Homo sapiens: one gene and its partner. The protein of the gene in region 1 purifies or fractionates together with the protein of each later gene. This does not show direct contact. Each region holds a gene or a part of one and is shown on either strand. Other genes may lie near its edges.

What was found.
Region 2: the proteins of PLXNA4 (region 1) and NTRK1 purify together in Homo sapiens (affinity purification with western blotting; 2 studies listed by BioGRID, with this or other methods). This does not show direct contact.

What each region holds. Positions count from the first base shown.
Region 1 is NC_000007.14:132,566,148-132,570,163, forward strand, and holds part of PLXNA4 (plexin-A4 isoform 1 precursor), read right to left. Parts: intron 1-4,016. UniProt on the Homo sapiens protein: Coreceptor for SEMA3A. Necessary for signaling by class 3 semaphorins and subsequent remodeling of the cytoskeleton. Plays a role in axon guidance in the developing nervous system. Class 3 semaphorins bind to a complex composed of a neuropilin and a plexin.
Region 2 is NC_000001.11:156,880,108-156,882,350, reverse strand, and holds the end of NTRK1 (high affinity nerve growth factor receptor isoform 2 precursor), read right to left. Parts: coding exon 2,194-2,243; intron 895-2,193; coding exon 709-894; 3' UTR 501-708; downstream 1-500. UniProt on the Homo sapiens protein: Receptor tyrosine kinase involved in the development and the maturation of the central and peripheral nervous systems through regulation of proliferation, differentiation and survival of sympathetic and nervous neurons.

The DNA of each region.
Region 1 (4,016 bases):
GAAAGGAGCACCGTGCCTGCACCAAGCATGGGGGGGCTCTATAATTGGGCACGTGAATTACCAGTATCCCCAAGTGATTCAAACCCAAATACCACTGAGAGGGTACCCCCTTTTACCCCAACCCACATACACACTCCCACACTCTCCCTCTCTCTCTCACACACACACACATACAATCATTACCTATGTGAGATGAATGCCAGGCAGTGAAAACGCTTTCCATGGGAAATGCCTAACTTCACTCTCCAGGTCACTACCCAGTGGTGGAAACCATGGATTTACAGTCTAATTAGAAATCCTCAGCCTTTTCTTGGATGGCAAAGTTTTCTCTTCCCAAGAGAAAATTTGTTTCAACCGTCCAAAGTTTAGGGAGATGTGTCTTAATAACTCAAGCTTCCTTTGTTAATTTGATAAAGAACATTTATCTTTGTCAGTTATATTGAAGCCTCTTATTCAAGCAGTTGGAGAAAAAAAAATTGAGAAGGTGAATGTCATTACTCACATATTTTGCAAACATCCATCTTGATCTGTTATGTGCAACCAAAAAGTGCCACTTGTGGGAAACATGTCCACAAACCTGTCAGAGTGGCATTCACACTTTTTGAATTTGTTTCTTTATGAAATATACACCTGAAGGCAGATCACAAGGCCACTGTCGCTAAAGTTTTGTGAGAATTCGCAGTCATTTCTGGGAGTCTCAAAAGCAAATGACAAGGACAAGAGGCAGGCGGTGCCTCTGAAAGTTGGGGTCACAAGTCCCTACAAGTCCCTATTTTATCAGTACAGTGAATTCATTCTTCTGGTTTTTTCACCTCTGAAGTAAACCAAAACTTGAAAGCTTCCAGTTGAAGGTCACCATCTCCCAAAATGCCTTTCTATGGAACCGTCTTTCCAGGAGACATCAATAGGCTTAAATACTCCCACACAAACGGATCCCCATGGCCCAATAACCTGAAAAGCAGTGGGCAAAGAATAAATAGGTTTCCCAACAACAGGTCTTCTTCACCTTTAATTCGCCCTTATGCATCTCCTGAAGAGGACAAAAGAGAGGATGCTTGCAAAACTTACTTGGTCACAGAATGCTCTTTCCATGGAGGATTTTATAGACTAGTCTTTGGAATGTTCTGCTAAATTCAGCTTGGTCTCCCCCCCACCCCCCGCCGCAATCTATCAGTGCCAAAACCCATAGTGAGTTTTACACAGAGAGAAATAATTTAATTCCATGTGCATCCATGTGCAAGACCACTGCACCTACCTGTCCCCAACCACTATGACCCAGGATGCTGGAGGGTAACTGAGGGGCTCAGCCTGTACCCATCTGGATTCATCTGAATCCTCTGGAATAGCCAGTCAGTCTGACTTGATGTGATCCCTACTCTGTCCCTGCTGCAGAGTAAGAACCCACCATATTAGTCTGGTTCACCCTAGCCTTGATATTTTTAAGGTCATTCTTCTCCACCTTATCCTACTCCATTTATTCCTTCTATTTTTACAGCAAATATTTATCAATTGCTTCCAGTAAGATAGGCTCTGGGTTGGGCAATGAGTATACAAGAAGTAAGAAATGATCCCTCTCAACCTAAAACATAAAGAAATACATGATTCCCACTGTTTTCATTGCCACTGCCAGTAGCAGCTTCTTCACCATTATTAAAAAGCATGAATTGAGTTACTGATGAAACAAAAAACTGCTTGAAGCAGGGGCTGACCCTACCTTCTGGGAGCTGCAACTCTCAGGCAGAAACCCTAATGCAGGCCCACGTCTCTAGGTCAGTGATTTGCTCACATCAATCAGTGGTTAGGGGCAAGTGCATTTAGGGAGGAAGATAGGGTCAGTATCTAATGGACAAGAGAGCAGGGAAAGAGGTCACAAGCACAGCATGACCATTAGTCCTCTCCCCAGCCTGACCCTAAAGGGCCTTCAAAGCACAAGAGTAGTAAAAAACGTTGATGAGGGGCAGGACTAGCTAGAAGCAATGACTTACAGGAAATATTTTATGCAGAAATGTCCCCTGTTGCATTATATTTCAGTGCTTTCATTATTTCTTAAAACTGGGAGGGTGGCAGAGGTCATTACGACCTCCCCCTGCTTCCCAGCAGCCGTGCCATCCCTGAAATAGTCACACACCACTATGCGGAAGGCTGGCTGTTGCTTAGTAAGCCCCAAAACATTAGAAAAGTCTTCAGAAATCGGATTGGCACCCATTCTTAATGTGGTTTCTATTTGGGGTTTAAATGGGATAATAGTGTAGTCGACTAGTGTTGACACAGACTCGTGAATTCTGGGGCTCCTAATTGGAGTACCCTGCCCTGTCTTGCCATCTGACTCTGTTCTGAAGAACTTTATGTTCTTTGCATGGAAACCATTATCCCAGACTCCCAATTTATGTATCTGCCCAAATCTGCTGAGTCCCACCTGACATCACGCCACCCCACCCCAATTCTGAACTGCAGCCATTTTCCTGTTGAATCCTTGTTATCATTGCCACTGCCAGGAGCAGCTTCTTCACCATTATTAAAAAGCAGGAATTGAGCTCTTGATTAAACAAGACACTGCTGGAAGCAGAGGCTGACCCTACCCTCTAGGAGCCGCAACTCTCAGGCAGATGCCCTACCGCAGACCCACGTCTCTAAGTCAGTGAGTTGCTCACATCAATCAGTGGTTAGGGGCAAGCATATGTATTTAGGGAGGAAAACAGAGTCAGTATCTAATGGACAAGAGGCCCCCAGTGACGCTTTCTGCTGTTCCTCTGGCCCTAAAGTTCTTGCTGTCTTTTCTTCCTTCAGAGTCAAAGGCTGGGCTCCTGCAGGGGTAACCCTGACATACCTTCTGCAGGGAGAGCCAAGGAAGCCCCAGCCCCAGGGCCTGACCCACAGAGGCTCTAGCTTGACCTGGTATTCCCAACCCCAAAGTGAGGGGAGTTGACTCATGCCTCGTGGGGTGACTTGTGACCAGTGAGCTACAGCAGACCAGAAGGACCTGTGGATTAACTGCTGGCTGTGCCTCACCACCACAGACTATTCTGAGACATACTGTTCACACCAGGCTTCCCTGGATACCTCCTGAGTGACTGAGCCACCAGCTGCTTTTCACTGGGAAGGCAGGGCCAGCTTGGTAATACACTATTTGTTCTCCTTCCTTCCCTACCTCTCCTCCTTTGCTTCATTTTTGCTTCCCCGGGATCTCACCCCTCAATAAAGTCATAACACATAGCTTCTTCCTTGAGCTCTACTTTCTAGGGAACCCAGGCTGTGACTGGAGTGAAGGACAGACAGGCAGGGGCACAAGGCCCAGGCCCTCCATAGTTTTGACAAGAATAGTCCTGCTTGCATCTGTTCTGTGCACTGGAATTCCATATAAAATTTCACTGGAGCAAAGATTTTCACTGTATACATGTTAAAATATGTTTAATCACCGATCTAGACTAACCTCCTCATTTTATAAACAATAAACTGAAACATAAAATGATTTTTCCCAAAATGCTTTAGTTAGAGTTATCTACATCTATTTGTATCCAAAGCCTAGCTTTTTCCACAACAGTGGTTTTTAAGCAAGGGGACATATTGGAATCATCTAGGAACCTAAGAAAATGGACACGTGCCTAAGTAGCTGTCTCTTTCCTTGGAAAGACAAGGGACAGGATAGGCTCTGAAGAAGGCTGAGCAAATGCTGAGGCCAGAGGTGGACTCTGTACCTATCTGGCACAATTCTGCTTGAGAATCTATTGCTCACACAATCACCAGAATCCAGTACTTGGTTTACGTAATGCAAAGGTTCAGTGGAAATTTTCACTGTAGAAGCCACCCCTTTATTCACATTTGACAGTAGTCATAGCAAAGTGCTTGTCTTAGTCCAGTGTTTCTCAGTGGATTCCAGGTCCACTACACAGTTTATATACTTTTGTGATTTCACAATCCATGTGAGTGTATTAAAGGCTCTGAGAAGTCCTGCAGCAAGGAGTATCTTTAGCTTTGCTTTACACCCAGGGTTTTGCAAACTTACTTGACTGCGGAAA
Region 2 (2,243 bases), on another chromosome or scaffold:
AGAAGAGTAACAGAGGGGCAGGAACAAGGGGTCCTGCCTCCATCAATCCTTAGTCCAGCTCCGTCCCTTTCCTGCCCCCCATCACCCCACACACACACACACATGTTTCTCTCTCATCTGCTGCTGCGTGCTTGCTCTGTCCCGGACACACCAATACAAGGAAGACACCCCATCAACGCTCCCATCCTACCAGTACATCTAACTTCCACCCCTTCCACTATAGCCCAGCCTTCCTGAACATGAACTACAAAGATTGACAGTTAGGCTCTCAAGGTCTAGGAAGTTTGACCAGAGGCTGCCTTACCAGCAGGTGAGCCAGGTGACCATGGGAATGGGATCCAAACTATAGTCAAAGGTGAGAGTGACAGGTCCATGGAGTAGGGGTAGGCAGCTGAGGGGAACCTGAGTGGGGGAAGATCCCAGAGAGCTGTCCCCCTACCTGAATCCCAATGCCTCCCTCCTGGAACGACGTCATCCCAATAACTGGCAAGAGACACAGCCAAGGGATAATAAATATAATTGCTATGACGGGACCTTGCCTAGAGAAGCAGGAACATCCTCTACTCCCAGCCCCCACCTGTCCCTTCCCACATGCTGAGGGTGAATTAGATACTTTGAGATCACCCTGGGGCTGCTGGGAGCTATGGGGGATGCTGAGGGCAGGCCCCAGTATTCCGGCTAACCACTCCCAGCCCCTGGGCCGGCCCCCTAGCCCAGGACATCCAGGTAGACAGGAGGTGCCTGGGCCAGGGCTTGCAGCCGGGCGTGCACATCCTTGATGCTGTGGCGTTGCTGGGGCTCCCGCTGCCAGCAGCCCCGCATGATGGCGTAGACCTCTGGTGGGCAGGCACGTGGCCGCTCCAACTCACGTCCCTGCGTGATGCAGTCGATTGCCTGGGGCCACCGGAGAGACAGAGGAGAAAGCCCACTAGGCTGGGGGCAAGAGAGTGAGGCCAGTCCCAGTGCCCTCACTGAGGCTCCCAAGGCAGCTCACACTACTCGTCTGGGCTTCTTAGCTGCTAATAACCCGAATGGACACAGTCAACCCCAGGATTCATTTCTGCTCTGACACTGAGAAGTGAGAAGGATTAAGGCTCGACTATGGGAAGCTTGGGCTGGGGTAGGATTGCTTCCAGAAAACTGGGATCAGATCCTAAGAAGACTTGCCAGGTGGGTTGAGGAAGGCGAGGGGCTGAGGTATTTATCAATCCATCAGCTTAGTGTTGGGGGCTGAAAGGAGGAGGAGAAGGGCCCTCTGACTCTCAGCTCCAGAGAGAGAAAAGAAAATAGAGCAGAACTGCAGTTAAAGGGCGTGAAAAATAGCTGGCTTTCATTTTAAAGAAGAGGGCAATCCTTACTTCTCCCTTCTAGGGATACCACTCTGTGGGACTGACTAGCTCTCCCAAAAAGAAACTGCAGCAAGAAAGATCAAAGTTAGACTCTAGGAAGAACTGCTAAAGCAGCCAAGGAATCCAAAGGAGAAAGGGTGGCAGGGAGTGATTGGAGAAGGGGCCTGGAGCCTCTTTTCCCCTTCTTCCCCCCTCCCTATTAGAGGACTTGGGTTATGGGCGGCACTAATTCCATTTCTTCTCTCAGTGCTTGAGAAAATTAAAATCTATAACCCTCTCCCCCACCCCACCAGCCTCCGGGGAGCAGACTGCATTAGGAGGAGAAATGGAAACTGACAGCTGCGAGCCAAGCAGGGGGTGGGGGCAGCTGCTCTGGGAGACAGAACACCTGGGGCCTGCTCTGGCTGTGGCCAGCTAGGAGGGCAGGGGGAGGGGGTAGGACTGTCCTTCTGACAGTCTAACCTCCAGCCGTCCTGCTGCAGTGTTGGGCCTTCTTGTGCTGGGTTCCTCTTCCCGTGCTGGTCCCTTCCACTCTGATAATTCCTGCTTAGGTCTATAAAATGCAGCTAGGGATGGGGGTCTGGGCTCCTTGTACAAAGCACTTTGAGGTTCCCCCAGGGGCCAACTGGGCCTGGGCTTAGGACAGTAGGTGAAGGCAAGAATAAGGGAGGAAGAGAAGAAAAGGGCCACAGTGGAGGGGACACAGTGTGGGCACGGCGCTGGAAAGGGCCCCCCAACAGGCTGTGGCAGAGGGGCAGAAGGGGAACCGAGTTCCCTGAAAAAGGAACCTGAAGGGGCATGGGACGGGGAGGCCAGCAAGGGGTGACCATGGGCCGGGGCTGACCTCCGTGTTGGAGAGCTGGTACCAGGGCTGCTTGCCGTAGGTGAAGATCT